Regions from separate parts of the Homo sapiens genome. Here regions 1 and 2 are each linked to region 3. The links come from fine-mapping of genetic effects on gene expression. A gene starts in region 3. Each other region holds a variant in brackets. All regions are shown on one strand. Distances are from middle to middle.

Region 1 (5,198 bases), 71 kb before region 3:
AGAAAAAGGCAAGTACAGTTTCCCAGGCTCATACTGTTTTTCATTTCATTTATTTCTCCCTTTTAAAAAATGCTTTCATTTCCCTAATTATAAAAACATTACATGCTAAACTTCAAAAATTTATTTTATTATCATATTTATTTATTTTATTTTTTATTGATTTTTATTTTTTGGAAACAGAGTCTTGCTGTGTTGCACAGGCTGGAGTGCAGTGGTACAATCTTGGCTCAGTGTAACCTCTGCCTCCTGGGTTCAAGTGATTCTCGTGCCTCAGCCTCCCAAGTACCTGGGATTACAGGCGCACACCACTATGCCCAGCTAATTTTTGTATTTTTTCAGTAGAGACGGGTTTTTACCGTGTTGGCCAGGCTGGGCTCGAACTCCCGACCTCAGGTGATCCACCCACCTCGGCCTCCCAAAGTGCTGGGATTACAGGCGTGAGCCACCCCACCTGGCCTGTTTACTTATTTTAAAGCCAGAGTCTTATTTTGTTGCCCAGGCTGTAGTGCAGTGGCAGGATCATAGCTCACTGCAACCTTGAATTCCTGGGCTCAGGTGATTGTCTCACCTCAGCCTCCTGAGTAGCTGGGACTACAGGCACATGACGCCACACCTGGCTAGTTTTTAAATATTTATAGAGACAGGGTCTCACAATCTTGCCCAGGCTTGTCACAAACTCCTGGGCTCAAATGACCTTCCTGCCTTGCCTTCCAGAGTGCTGGGATTACAGGCATGAGCCACTGCACCCTGCCGAAAAATTTATAAAAAATATCAAGGAAACATGATGTTTGTAATCTTACCATCCCACACATGCACATATATTTAATTCTGCTTTTTAGCCAACATTTCATTTAGAAATATAAAATGAATATTTTCCTATATAAACACATATTCTTTCACAGAATTGTTTTTATGACCACAATTAAATTCATGATTCATTTAGAATTTATTCTCGTGTCACATGTGAAGTGTGGCTTTAATTTTTTTTCCCCCTTTGATAACTTTGGTTCTAGTGGTATCAGTTTTTTCCCAGAGGGCTACCCAGTTATCTCAACATCATTTAGTGAATAATCCAGCTTACCCACACTGATTTGAAATTTCATCATTATTTTTAAAATTCCCCTATATATTCTGTTCAGTTCCATTGCTGTATTCATATATTAGTAGCCATAGTGTTTTTAAATATTAAGGTTTTATGTTTTAATACCTAATAAGGCAAATTCCTCTTCATTCTAAGTTTTCAGAATGTTTTTAACTATTTTTATCACTAACTTTGAGTTCCAAAAACAAAAAATTTCTGACATTTTTGTTGACATCGTGTTAACTTGATAGGATATGTTATGCCCTTTTATTTGTTCAGGTCTTTTTTGTGTCCCTCAGTAATGGTTTCTTCATATGGATCTTGGATATTTCTTATTAGTTTCATTCCTAGATAATTGTATCTTTTGGGTTTACTATTGTCTGTGACATATTTTCTTCCACTGATTATTATTGTTGGAATATATGAAGGCTATTGATTTTGGTATATTAACTTTGTATCCTGTAACCTTACCAAATTCTTAATATTTTTAGTAGTCGTTCCAGTAATAATCTTTGGGCTTTATCTGATAGTGCTTTGGCTTAAGTTAGATATATTTTATCACTTGTCTATCTCTGGTTTATTCTTCTTGTCTTTCTGGGTTGCCTAGAGTCTCTGGTGTAAAATAATAGTGATGGTAGAAAACATCCTTACCTTCTTCCTGATTTTAGTAGGAATAATCCTAGAGTTCCATTGTTAAGCATTATTGGGTATAAGATATATGTTTTACAGCCAGGTGCTGTGGCTCACACCTATAATCCCAGCACTTTGGGAGGCTGAGGCGGGCAGATTACCTGAGGTCAGGAGTTCAAAGTCAGTCTGGCTAACATGGTGAAACCCTGTCTCTGCTAAAAATACAAAAATTAGCCAGGCTTGGTGACGCATGCCTGTAATCTCAGTTACTCAGAAGGCTGAGGCAGGAGAGTTGCTCGAACCTGGGAGGCAGAGGCTGCAGTGAGCTGAAATCACGCCATTGTACTCCAGCCTGGGCAGCAGAGCAATACTCCGCACCCCCCCTCCAAAAACAGATATATGTCTTACCATTTAAGGAAATATTAATCTGTTTCTATTTTATTAAGAGTTTTTAATAAAAAAGGAATGTTGAATATTTTTAAGATCTTCATTTGTAGATACGTTACCTCATTGAGAAGGTGGCATTGAGTACAGTCCTTAGGGACAGAATGGAGGGAGTCATGTGCATACTTGGGGAGAAGAACATTCCAGACAGAGGGAATGGAAAGTGTAAAAGCCTTCAACCAGAAGTATGCCTGGTGTCTTTGAGGAGGAACAGTGAGATCCCATATGGCTGGGGTGGATTTAGCAAAGTAGCACATGGAGCCAGAGAGGTAGAGTATGGAGGGCCTGATGTTGCCTTTTCCTCTGAATGAGGTGGGGAACCATGGTGGGTTTTAAGCAGAAGTTGCCTACGCATGAGCTGGCTTTAATAGGCTGCTGTTTTGATGAGAAATAT[G/A]GGGAGTCATGGGTACAAAAGGGACATGAGTTAGGAGGCTTTTAGAGATTCTTCATAATTGACTCATAGCAAGAAATGTTATAACTTGGACCAAGATGGTAACAGTGGTAGTGGTAGAAAAATCCTGTGAGCTAATTTTTTTGTACTTTTTGTAAAGACACGGTTTCACCATATTGCTCAGGCTGGTCTCGAACTCCTGGGCTCAAGCTACCCGCCCATCTTGGCCTCTCAAACTGCTCAGATTACAAGCGTGAGCTACCACCCCTGACCTCCTAGGGTATTTTAATTGCTGATGCTTCATTGCTTTAGTTCTCAACTCAATGTTACCTTGTCAGAGAGCTAGCCCTGCTAGGCTGCTATATTATATTCCTCTTTTATTTCCTTCATAGAACTTAACCAAAACCTGAAATAGTCTGTTTTATTTACTTATTTGAAAGTATAAAAATGTAAGCCTCTTATGGGCTGACATCTTGCTGATGTTACCAGTGTATCTGTAATACCCAAAATAATAATGTCTAGCACTAATTCAATACATATGAATGAAAAACCAAACTTAACTGGCCAATTCCATGCTTCTTGATTTGTTTATACAGTAGATCTTCCTCTAATTGACAGCCTCATTCGGGTCTTACAAAATATGGAACAGTGTCAGAAAAAACCAGAGAACTCGGCAGAGTCTAACACAGAGGAAACTAAAAGGACTGATTTAACCCAAGATGATTTCCACTTGAAAATCTTAAAGGATATTTTATGTGAATTTCTTTCTAATATTTTTCAGGCATTAACAAAGGTAGGAAAGAAGTATTGATGATGTCATAAGCAAAAGAAAGTGTGGGTTGCTTAACGCTTCAAACTTTATTTTTTTTTAAATATGAAAGTAATATATAATTTGGGAAAATAAAGTAAAATCTTAATATCACCATGAGTTTATAATCTTAAAAACAACTAGCTGATGTGGTTTGGTATATTTACGTGTGACAGACATATGCCTATGTTTGCATGCATGTGTTTTTATAAATGCATTTTTCATATACTTTAACCCAGCATATGCAATTTTTATAGACTACTGTTTTCCCTTAACACTGTATTATAAACATTTTTCTTGATTCTAGATGAAAGACTTTTTTACTGAGAGCCAGTTTAAACCTAATTTACCAAATAATCAGTTTTCAAAATTTACTGCAAACTTCTTTTAAGGAACATTCTCCCTGAATATGTTCAATGGTTATTAATATTCTTCTTTTGACCATGTTTTTTCTATCCATATATTTGGAAAGAAATGTATTATGAATATGTTATGAATATATTGTATTATGAATATAAAATGTTATAAATATAGCTGTGAAGAATATATTTATTCATACCCACTTAATTTTTTAAAGAGTATTCCTTAAGAAGTTTCTCTTGGCCAGGCGCCTATAATCCCAGCACTTGGGAGGCTGAGGCAGGTGGATCACTTGAGCCCAGGAGTTTGAGACCAGTTTGGGCAACATGGCAAAACCTCATCTCTACAAAAAATACAAAAATTAGCTGGGCATGGTGGCACACGCCTGTGATCCTAGCTACTTGGGAGGCAAAGATGGAAGGATTGCTTGAGCCCAGGAGGTCGAGGCTGCAGTGAGCCCAGACTGTGCCACTACACTCCAACCTGAGCGACAGAGTGAGACCCTATCTCAAAAAACAAAATGAAACAAAAAGTTTCTCTTATTCTGGTGATTTTTTTTTTATTAGTTGTCTTGCTTCCCTTTTCCATATTTGTATTTTCCAGATTTGGGGTTATTACCTTAGCAGGTTTTATATAATTTAAATTACTGGATTCAACATTATAAATGTGAAGATGGCTAAGTCATGATGGCCATATTTTGTCAAAATGCTATTTATATGTGAAAATGTTGGTTTTACTTGACGCTTATTATTGGGTATTATAATTTTTATGTCAAAGTTCAGGTAATAAATTGTGTCTTACTTTGATTTGCATTTTTAAATTAATGAGATTGAAATATTTGGATGTCGTATGTTAATTTGTTTCCTACCTTTTAATAATTTATCCATTTTGATTATTTGTATGAATTTCTTGGGTAATAATGTATCTTTTCCATATTTATCGCATGTATTTTTTTCCCATTCTTTGCTGTTGTTTCTGTTTTTTGGAGCAAGGGACATCGATATTTCTTAACTTTTAAGTGGTGGGAACATCAAAGAAAGGTGGGCTGAGAATACACGAGTGCTATGTCATGCAAATTCTTATGTCATATTTAGGGGATTTAGACTTCATCTTGAAAAAGCTGAGGAACTACTAAAGATTTTTTACTTTTAAGCACCAAGTGATACGATCAGTTTAGAAAGATTACTCCAAAAGCAATAGAGAGGAAGGAGTAGAGAGAGTTGAGGCTGGAGGGCAGGAGATCAACTAACAGGCTCTTGTGGTTGGTAATCTTCAAGAATAATCTGAAAAATGATGGCAGCCTAAACAATGGAAGTTTGAATGGAGAGGAGGGATGGGGGTAAGAGAGATTTGGTAGAATAGAATTGAGCACTTGCCGGGAGGAGTCAGCAGGAGGGGAGAAGGAAAAGTCTTGGCTGTGTTCCAAGTTTGTAGTCTGTGTAGCAGGGTGGATGGTGGTGCCCTTCACTAAAGTAAAGACGACA
Region 2 (5,231 bases), 170 kb after region 3:
CTTTATAAATTATCCAGCCTGTGGTATTCGGTTATAGCAACAGAAAAAAAGACCAGGAGAAGATCATGTATCTTGAAAGTAACAGAGATAGAACTGAAATGACATTTGCTGAGACATAATATAGTAAAGCAGAAAAAAACATAGATTTTTGAGTAAGACATACTTGAGTTTAAATCCTGATTTTGCCACTTACTGATGGTATTGACCGTGAATAAATTAATCTCTCAGGTCCTAAGATTCCTCATCTGTAAAATGGGTCAAATAATATTTCCCTTGCTGGGGGTAATTTTAAGGATTCTAAATAATGTATATAAAGCAACCAGCATTGTGCCTGGTCAGAGTAGGTCCTCAGCACATGGAAGCTATTATTATTCTGTCTCCTGGTCCTGTGCTCTTTCCAGTCTACCAAGATGTCTACTACTGTAGATATAGAAGGTACAAGGGATTGGCCTTACCTGTCTTCAGCCCATCAAATGCTAGAAGTCTTTTCATTAGCCTCAAGGGTGGGGTTGGGGGGGTTGTTTTATCCCTTTCTAATAACAGAAGCTGGAGGCAGCTTTTATTGTATAGGTAAAACTTAAATAATTTTATATCAATACCAGAGCTGCTGCAAAGCAATAAAGTAAGTATCACGTATGACTCTTGTTGATAGTAAGTGCCCAGAGTCAGGAAATGCTTTTTGGATTTTAAAAATATGCATAGAATTTGACTAGGAGAACAAGAGATACTTCATGTAGGATCAACGGTGTGGAGGTAAGACAATGTAAGATTTGCTCAGCTTGGCTAGAACAAAAATTGTCATTGGTAGGGGAGCATACATGATAAGGATGGAAAAATAGACTCGTATATAGAGCTTCACATGTGCATGTAAACACACACATGTTACTCACATCTCCTATGCATGTACATTGCCAACCTAAAATACTTAGAATTGATTGGAAGCATTGGGTGAATAGATATTATTTCATCTCTCTATGATTTGTAGAAAAGCAATGTGGTCAGAAGAAAGAGAGCTAGAGTGGGGGTTGGGAGACCCAGATGTTGCTCTTGGTACCGCCCCATTCGACTGTATAATCTGGACAAGACATGGAACCTCTTTGGGCCTTATCTCCTCATTTATAAAAACATCTGTGCCACTTTTGGAAAATCCTTTGGAGCTATTATCAAGAGCCTTGAAGATGTCCATTCACTTTCATTTATTAATTCATATCCTAGCATTCTTCTCTAAGGAAAGATCTTAAATATGGAAAAAAACTTTATGGTTAAAGATGTTCATCATAGTCTTTTTATAATTTAGTAAAATTAGGAGCTACCTAATTTTACTAACATTTGGTAATGGATAAAAGATGACCTATCTGCTTCACTAATTTGTAGTGTTTATTAAGTAAGAATTGCAGCATTGGTCATGTAAAAATGAAAACAAAAAGGCACATATGAAAAATATACTGGGAAATATACTTTCCAGTGTAGGAAGCATTGTTGATGTTATCCACACCCTTCATGATCCAGACCCAGATGTTCACACCAGCTGTCTTTGTGCCACCACTATTTACTGTATATGGTGACCTCACTATGGTGACCTTAGGACATTTTCCTAACAAATACCTTTCATCCCTGTATGCTTTTGTATGTCTGGTTCATTCCTCCTGAAATTCCCTTTACTCCCTTGTCTCGCCATGAATATCTGCTCTTCTTCTAGTCCAGCTCTGCAAATTTCCCTGACTTCCTAGGTGGAATCAGTTGCTCCTTCATCCTTCTTTCTATAAAATTTGTAACTTGGCTCTAACACATATGTCCTCTGTTACAGTCTTCTTGTTTGTTTCCATCTCTGCACATAGACTGGGCCTTCCTTAGGGTCAGAATTGTGTTATCAACAAATCCCTAGGATTCAGCAAAGGGCCTGGCATTTAATAATCACTCAATATATGATTGAATTTTTACTTTTTTATTTTGATTTTTTGCTTTTCCATGTTTTCTGCATATTTTATAATGACTATGCATTGTGCTTATAATGGAAGAAAAATAGTAGTAATTCATTTACTCATTTACTTTAACAAGGTGACTGACCTAGTTCAGAGGTTCTCAAACTTGGCAGTTCATCAGAATCACCTGGAGAGCTTATTAAATTGCAGATACCCTGGCCCCTAGACAGACTTCTTGAGTCCCAGTCTCCCGGATAAGGACCTGGAATCAGTATTATTAACAGGCTACCAGTTATTGGGATGCTCAGCCATGTCTGAGAACCTTTGACCTCAGTACTGCTAAAGCCCTTTCAGCTTAAAATCTTCCTAATTCTTTGATTGGCCTTCTGTCCCTTGCTCCCCCTGCTATGAGAGGCTTTAGCTGGAGGGCATGTGGAGCAACAGGCCATACAATGGAGAATACCTGTACTAGCTTCATTATTGGGCTCCTCTTCTGTGCCAAAGACTGCTTTGTAAATAGCGTTTTAAAATATCTATACAATCATACTTTAAGGTCAGTTTTATTTTCTCCATTTTACAGATGAGAAAACTGAGGCAAAGAGAAGTTGTGACTTTCCCAAGGTCAAATAAGAAAGCATTGGATGCTGTGTTTCAATTCAGTTCTGTCAGACTTCAAAACTGGATCTAGAATTTCCCTCACTGCCCCTCCCTGTCCCCCTTCCCCCCAAATAAAGGAACCCCAGCAGGGTCACGTACAGCCCTGCTGAGTGCAGACACGTTCTGCCGTCTGCTCAGGCATGTGGAATTAGCATCCTTGGGCAGCAATGCACCACATAAGCAGAGGCTTGCAGCTCACCAAATGTGCTCTGGCGCCCACCCACCTGCTTACAGGGTGCAGTGAAGCAGTGGAATTCAATTTGCGGCAGTGACCTAAGAAGAGCTATTTTT[A/G]GTAAGAAAGTAGGTCAGGGGCTGCAGCGGTGCTGCCTGATAAAGGAACAGCCTCCCCTGTCACCAGGAGGCTTGCTCACTTCTCGCACAGCCAGTGTGGAGGTGAGGTGCAGATCTGACATCCTCACATGACTGCAGTTGTAATCATTACTGTGGAGCCACTAGGGGGTAATACACACACACATCTAAGACACAGAGGCTCTTGCCTGGGTTTGCTTAAGGTCTTGGGCCCTAGTCTTCCTCAGGAGATTAGAATCCCTTCAGGAAACACCTCTAACATACTAGGAGGCTCATCTATTATATACCTGCTACATGTCAGCCACCATTCTGGGTTCAATATGCATTCTCTCATTTAATCTTTGCAGTATCTCTGCAAGGTAAGTATTATTATCCCAGTTTTGCTGATGTGGAAATGGAGTTGCAGAGAAATTAAGAGATATACTCAAGATCACAGTGTTCATGTGTCATGGAGCCATTTTTGAATCCTGTGAGAGACTTCAGTGCTGATGATCGGATGACCAGACCATCAAACCATGCTGGAGGTGATTTTTTAATTACCATTCTGCCTCTGCCCCGTTTTGTTCAATACTTCAGAGAAAAAAAAATACAAAGATGGTGTTCTCCATCTGAACTTATCTGAATCAGGACAGGAAAGACCCAGGACACAGACCCTTTCCCCAGAGAGGAGAGAATACATCTCTACATACTGCTGCCCAATCATCAAGCCCAGTAGTTGCCAAAAACAAACCAACCACCTGATTTCCCTGGGCCTGGAGTGTTTCAGAATCCTCTGCCCCACTTGTTCTGCCGTGTATTAACTGCAGAGCTGTGGCAAATTGCAAGGCACTCATTGGCGATACACAGGTGGACATGAGCTTGTTAACAGAATGCAGTAATTGACATACCGTGATTCATTATGCACAGCACGAAGGACTCTAGTAGAAGCCCACTTTATGGCCAAGAGCTGCTGGCACCACCAACCTTGAGAATTTGTTCCTGGCTCTGTTCTGTCTCCCCAGCTAGAGAGCACCATCCCTTTAGGGGCCAGAAGCAGTCTGTGGCTTCAGTCTTATCTGCCCCTACCTCCAGGCAAGGAGTAAGGATACTTCCCTGGTCCCAGGCTGCATGACGTTGGAGGGAGATTATTTGTTCATTCATTCACTCAACAAGCATTTAAAAAAATCTGGCCAGTAATGCAGTGGAGAACAAGACAGATAGTTCCTGCCCTTCCAGAACTTAATCACCTGGTGACTATCAGAACTGCAAATTTCTAAGCACCCAATTCCCAGTTCTATAGACCTGGAAGTGGGCCCTCTCTGGACCTTAGTTTCTTTATCATCAAATGAGTAGAAAAGAGAGAATTGTATTGGTCAATCTCTTTTAGCTCTAAGATTTCAGACTCTGTGGTTATGGATTATAAACATGAGTCACAGTATCAGTCTTAGTCATTTGTATCCAATGCCAAAGGAAAAAAAATGAAAATCTCAAATTTCAGAATCTGGATGGGAAACATGGACACAAGCTAATTCAATTTCTTCACTTACAAATGGGAAAAATGAGGCTAAAAGAAGGGTGTGTCTTGCCTAGTATATCAGTGAACAGAGCCAGGATGGAGAGGCCAGTCAGCTGAGCCCAAGTCTTGAGACACCCCATTCCTACTGAGGCTGCCTCTTCACTCAGCACTGCTGCTGTGCCCCTGTTTGGAACCCTTTCTGCACTTGGCTTTTCTAACAGTGAGCTCTACTGAGTCTTCTACTTACGCCTCTAACCACTGCTTCTGTGTTTCCTTATCAGCCCCAGGGCCGATGGCCTGAGAGTAGAAGAAGGAGTAGGCTTTGATAGCTGAGCCCCCAAAGGTAAATCAAATTTAACTTTGTTATGCTAAGGCTATAAAAAAAAATGGACATGAAGAAGTTGAAGCAGAGCATGTAGAGTTTGCTGACAGAGTTCTCGAACAAGCAGTTACAGAGGCAAACCACAGTGAAACAACAGAAGAAGGGAACCTGGTGGAGATGGCTGCTGAGAAGTTGCTCCATGAACTCAGAGGACCTATAGAAGGGCCTACCTACACTCATTGTCTTAGAGCAGCCTTGCTAACCCACGGGCAGCGAGCTGCATGTGGCCCAGGACAGCTTTGAATGCAGCCCAACACAAATTTGTAAACTTTCTTAAAACAGGGGTTTTTTGTTCTGTTTTTTTTGTTTGTTTGTTTTGTTTTGTTTTTTTTTAAGCTCATTAGCTGTTGTTAGTGTACTTTTTGTGTGGCCCAATTCTTCTTCCAGTGTGGCCCAGGGACGCCAAAAGATTGGACACCTCTGGCGTAGAGCCTCTCTATACCCCTGGCCCATGTCTGTCTTCTAC
Region 3 (5,231 bases):
CTTCCTTGCCCTTCTGGATGAAATCTCAGGTTGCTGCCTGACTTTCTGCTTGCTCACAGGTAATAAAAAGTCCTTAGCTCCTAATTTCCATTTCTCTCTCTCTCTCTCTCTCTCTCTCTCTCTCTCTCTCTCTCTCTCACACACACACACACACACACACACTCTCTCTCTCTCTCTCTCTTTCTCATTTCAATATTTAAAAAGGCTAGTCCTGTGGAAAAACTTTGATAAAACAAACTTTAAGGTTGAAGCTTTTTTCCTCCTCCAGAACTGAGAAAGGAGTGGGTGTGCTTAGTTTCTTAATTTCCTTGTCTCTTGTTACTCAGTGGATGCCTGGGACTCCTCCAGGGTTGGGGAGATGTAGAGGGGAGGAGAGGTAAGGAGGAGAAAAGTTCTTTTTGGTCTGATACTGTTGTGAATTGTCATCAGTGCTTTCTGTACTTTGTAAATATTACATGCTGACATTTTCTTGTGGGCATTTTGGAAGACCTTCCCACCTTCTTATTTCTTGGGATTTCTTGATGTAGGTAAATGTATCTCTCTGGGCTGTTAAATTCATTTCCCTCACCCTCAAGGAATCTAGTGATCGACTGTCCTGTGGGTGTCACTTCACCCTTCCAGAAATTCTCTTGGACAAGGTCTAAGACCATCCCCCAGCCAGTTTGCTCAGGTATGGGAAATACTCACATGGGAAATGGACAGTTTTTATTTTGAAAAACTGTGGGTGTGAAAGACCTCCCCAAAGCATCAGTTTGTCTTTGCTCAGCTATTAGAGCAGATATCCAGCCACAAGCCCTTGTATTTCTCAGAACGGATTGGACAGAAGCCTGTCTGGGTCCTAAATCTAGAGGGATGCATACCAAGCTCTCTCAGGGACCCAGGTAAAGTAACTTTCCTTAGACCTGAGATGGGTTGAGACCCACACCACATTGATAATTGTGGCCACATATCCTACTAGAATTCTCTCTGGCCTCTCAACCTTTTTCGTAGACTGAAAGTCATACACTGGTTTCTAGACAGTTGCTTTGCAAGACCTGCTTTGGTGGTCTTGAACCTTACTTTATGATATAGGAGTAACTGGCACTTGTTGCTCAGCCAAAACTGAGCGGTGAAGGATCCCATTTTTACATCCTGTTACACATGCTTCAAAGAAATGGTCAGCACAAAAAAGCCCACTCATAAGACAGTCAGTAAGCATGGTATAGCTCCTGCACATTCAGATCCCTAGAGAATGAAGAGCTGTTTTATCTCTCCAAAGTTTGCTTTTTTCTTGGTATGGTCATCGACGTTCTCCAGATGCCACAGGTTGGAGAGATAAAGGTGAGGGGCTGCCCTCAAGTGGTCTTACAGGCAGAAACTCCTAAAAGTGGATGGAGTGAAAGAACAGGAAAGGACAGTGTAAGAGCTCATTGGAGACACTTCCCAGAAGCCCAGGGGTGAAGGGCAGTGAGTGCTGGAGGCCCGTGTCAGCAGAGGGGCCAAGTGCTACCGAATGTGAATGTGGATGATCATCTTTAATGTGACCCTATGTGTTCTGTATTCCCGGTACGCGGTGCCATATTTTCCTTCAGATAAATTGAACTTAATTAACTCCCATCAGCAACACGACGCTGTCTGAGAAAAGCCATTTTATATGGAAATGTTCGTTGGGTGACGATTATCCAGTATTATTAATAGAATGAGCTCAGGGCCGTGCCCGGAGCGCCGAGGCTGCCCCGGCAGGAGTCGACGCTAACCAGCCTCCCCCATTCAGCGTCGCGAGGCGCGGGTTCCCGCTCCGTGCCAGGTGCAGAGGGCGACACCGGCGACGTGCCACTCCACTCGCCTCCCAAGGCGCCCCCTCAGATGTTTGCGAACGCACACCAAAGCGGGCTCAAGACAATTGCGCCTGAGACGCCGGGCAGGACCCTGCCCTACCCCTCAGGCTCCATTTCCTGTTCCCGCAAATGGTGATGCCATCGCTGCCCTGTCAGCCCCTCTGGGCTGTCGTGGGCCTCCAAGGAGACAAAAACGCGAAGGAGCTTTGTGAACTGTGGCGCGCAGTGCACCTGCATGAAACATGAAATTATGACTAAAAATAAAGAGTACGAGGGGGTAGGAGCGAGAGGCTGAGAGGCCCAGCGAGACAGGAGGCTGCGGGCGGAGACGCTGCGAGCGCCGCCGGGGCGGGCTGACTGGGAGGCGGCTCCGGGGCTGTCGTCCGGCCCCGCCCACCACTGATCCCCAGTGGCCCGAGGGCCCGGCCGCACCCTCTCTCCCGGCCTGCGGGCCGCTTCCCACCACAGACCCCGCCCCGCGCCCTACCCATCACGCGTCCCCGGTCCGGCTCCGGCGCTCACCTACCCCCGGCAGGCGCCGCCCCCGTGCCGTCCCTCCCGGAAGCGCCGGCGGAGCGTCCTCGCATGGAGCGCGAGCCCAGCGCCTCGGAGGCCGCCCCCGCGGCGGCCGCGCTCTTCGCCTGGGTACGTGACTCCGCCCCCGGGCCGGTGCAGGCCCTGAGGGGCGCCGAGATGTGGGAGCTGCTGGCCGCGGCGTGGGCAGTTCAGGGGCTGGGCGGCTGAGGTCCGAGCCGGGCTCTGGGTTGAAGGATCCTGGGCTGGGAGCGGAGGGGGAGCGGAGGAGGAGCGGGCGGGCGGGGAAGGAAGGGTCTTCGCGGTCGACTTAGGGGCCTGCCGGCTGGCGGGGTCAGGGCCGGAGGGGCTGTGGCGCCGCGGGAAGAACCTGCCTCGGGGCAGAGCGTCTGGTTCCGCGAGAGCCCTCCAGCCCGAATAGCGCCTGGAAGACAGCGCGGAGGGCTCGGTGGAGAGGATCGCCCGGTCCCAGAGCTCCGTGGGGCCACCTGTGCCCCCCACACTCCTGATGCCTGGAGGAGGGAGACCCTGTCCCAGCCTGGCGAAAGCATCCTTTAGATGTGAGGCCTGCGGTGTTTGGCCGCGCACAAGGCACAGACCCTGCCTATTTGCTGACACTCTGCTGTGACCGGTTCTTGCATGTGTTGGGGGAGTTGGGCTGCTGTTGGTTTGACGGGAGCATTGGGAGAGACAGGGTCATCTTGATGTGTGTCTGGGAGAGAGGAGGGTTCATGCACAGGAGCGTGGCAGGTGGCCGACCAGCATGCACGGGAACAAGCAGTCGCTGCGTCTTGTGCTTCTTCATAGCACGTATCACAATTGTAATGATGTGTATAATTTATTATTAACGTCAGTCTCTCTGGCTGGAAAGTAAGTGTGGTAAGAGTGGGTGCTGTGCCTGTCTTGTTCACGGTGCCTCTCTTGGTGTCTGGCACATTGTAGGTCCCCAGTAAATACTCGTTGACGAATGAATGAACGAGCATCTGTGTGCCTACCCATGTGCTGGTGTTGGGGAAATACACATGAGTGAAATACACGAGTGAAGGACTTCCAGCTCTTGTGTTGGGGGAGAGCAAAATTATAACCTGTATTGCTGTTAAAATCAGTATTAGTTGTCCAATTTTTAAAGAAGTAATGATCAGTACAAGGCGGCAATTGTTGAATGTGGGGCTGCAATTTGGCAGGAGGGAGAGCATGGCGTGACCTGCGGTAGTCTGGCTGGCTGGGCGTCTTTGAGGTGGCCCGGGAGCTGGGGGTGGAGTTGGGGATTGAATGTGTGCTGTCTCTGGCTTTTTCCAGGCAGGAGACTGGCGTCTGTGTGGACAGAGGAAACAGAAATATTGTTTCAGTACAGACAAAGCCGAATATTAAAGGTTGTAAAATATGTTTAATAGGTTGTTGACACCCTTCTGCTGTGTTTGGAGGACTGGTAGTGTGTTTTTCCTGCTGTATAATCTGAAACTGTGGGGGTGTGTTGGTCGGCTAGGGCTACCATAACAAAATACCACACAACAGAGGCTTAAACAACAGAAATTTATTTTCTCACAGTTCCAGAGGCTAGAAGGCCAAGATCAAGGTGTGAGTAGGTTTGGTTTCTCCCGAGGCCTCTCTCTGGCTTGCAGATGGCCGCCTTCTCACTGTGTCCTCACATGGCTTTTTTCACTGTGTCCTCACATGGCCTTTTCTGTGTGCGTGAGCATCCGTGGTGTCTCTTCTTTTAAGGACACCAGTCATATTGGATTAGGGCCCCACCCTTATGACCTCATTTAACCTTAATTGCCCCTTTAAAGGCCTTCTTTCCAAATACAGTAAGGTACTAAAGGTTAGGGCTTCAACACGTGAATTTTGGGGGAATAAAGTTCGGTTCACAGGAAGGGGATTTACCTTGTTAGGGGTGTGTGTGTGTGTGTGTGTGTGTGTGTGTATGTGTGCATGTGCACGTGTGATATGTCTGGAGTGTTTGTGAGGAAGAAAGGCAAACAACAGTTGTAATAGGTTGTGTTAAATTTCCCTTCGTCTTGCTTTATCCTGGATTTAGGGCCTCTCACAGTGTTACAAAAATTGGTACCGTAATTTGAACCTCAGAGTGCCCATGTGTCATGTTACTTTTCTCCCAGGTGTTCAGCAGCCTTGCACCCCTGGTAATGGGACAGCCACGGAGATCTCAGGGCTGACCAAGAAATCCTGTGCATATATGCTCTATATTCCCCTTCATGCTGAGCAAGTCTTTCATAGGGTCTTACATTCATTCGCCATATAAATATATGTACATCTTCTTTGGGCCAGCACAGTTTCAGATGCAGGGGAAACAGCAGTGAGCAAAGCAGAGTTCCTGCCCTCCTGGAGTTTAGTTTCTGGCAGGGGTGGTGTACAGTAAACAAGTAGTCATATATAATGTAACATCAAGAAGTGGCATGAAGAAAAATAAAGCAGAAAATGAGTGATATGGGGATGCTCTTTTAGATAAAGTCATACAGTTAACCACCTGTCAGGTAAGCTCTGGGCTGCTTCACTGTATGTCCTTTTTTTATTTTTTCTAAGAGACACAGTAAGGTATAGTAAAAGGTGCAGGGCATCAGACTTTTTGCCTACCCAGATATAACTATGGAAAGTTACTTAACCTCTCTGAGCCTTAGTTTCTTCCTCTGTGAAATGGGAGTAATAATGTCCTTCTTAGTTGTTGTGAGGATTAAAGGTGAATGCACAGTATGGAGAGAAGCACTCAGTAATTGGTAGCTAATATTGCCCCCTGTGGGCTTCTGGGACTTATGCCCCTGCTATGGCTTACTCTTCCATCTTTGAGTCCTTGCAGCCCAGGATGGCTGTGAAATAGACTACAAGGGGAAGGATTATGTATGTATGTATGTAAGTATGTATATA

The links. PIP is the estimated chance that this variant, and not a neighbour inherited with it, causes the effect.
Region 1: its variant is fine-mapped to the expression of SERGEF in whole blood (TOPMed, PIP 0.97).
Region 2: its variant is fine-mapped to the expression of SERGEF in whole blood (TOPMed, PIP 0.94).

The regions. Positions count from the first base shown.
Region 1 is chr11:18,081,676-18,086,873 of GRCh38, reverse strand. SAAL1 (serum amyloid A like 1) reads left to right here. Exons shown (of 12, transcript NM_138421.3): 9 at 1-8; 10 at 3,143-3,339. Among named protein-coding and RNA genes, the nearest start is that of SAAL1, 22 kb to the left of the region's middle. The variant G/A (reference allele first, on the strand shown) is at 2,550.
Region 2 is chr11:17,844,766-17,849,996 of GRCh38, reverse strand. The region is part of intron 10 of SERGEF (secretion regulating guanine nucleotide exchange factor); the gene reads left to right. LOC124902642 (a long non-coding RNA gene) reads left to right here. Exons shown (of 2, transcript XR_007062610.1): 2 at 1-2,694. LOC107984317 (a long non-coding RNA gene) reads right to left here and starts at 2,622. Exons shown (of 2, transcript XR_001748144.2): 1 at 1-2,622. The variant A/G (reference allele first, on the strand shown) is at 2,871.
Region 3 is chr11:18,010,182-18,015,412 of GRCh38, reverse strand. SERGEF (secretion regulating guanine nucleotide exchange factor) reads left to right here and starts at 2,366. Exons shown (of 11, transcript NM_012139.4): 1 at 2,366-2,462. The coding sequence starts at 2,403. RefSeq lists enhancers at 1,649-1,698, 3,057-3,573, 3,574-4,091 and silencers at 2,079-2,698, 5,050-5,109.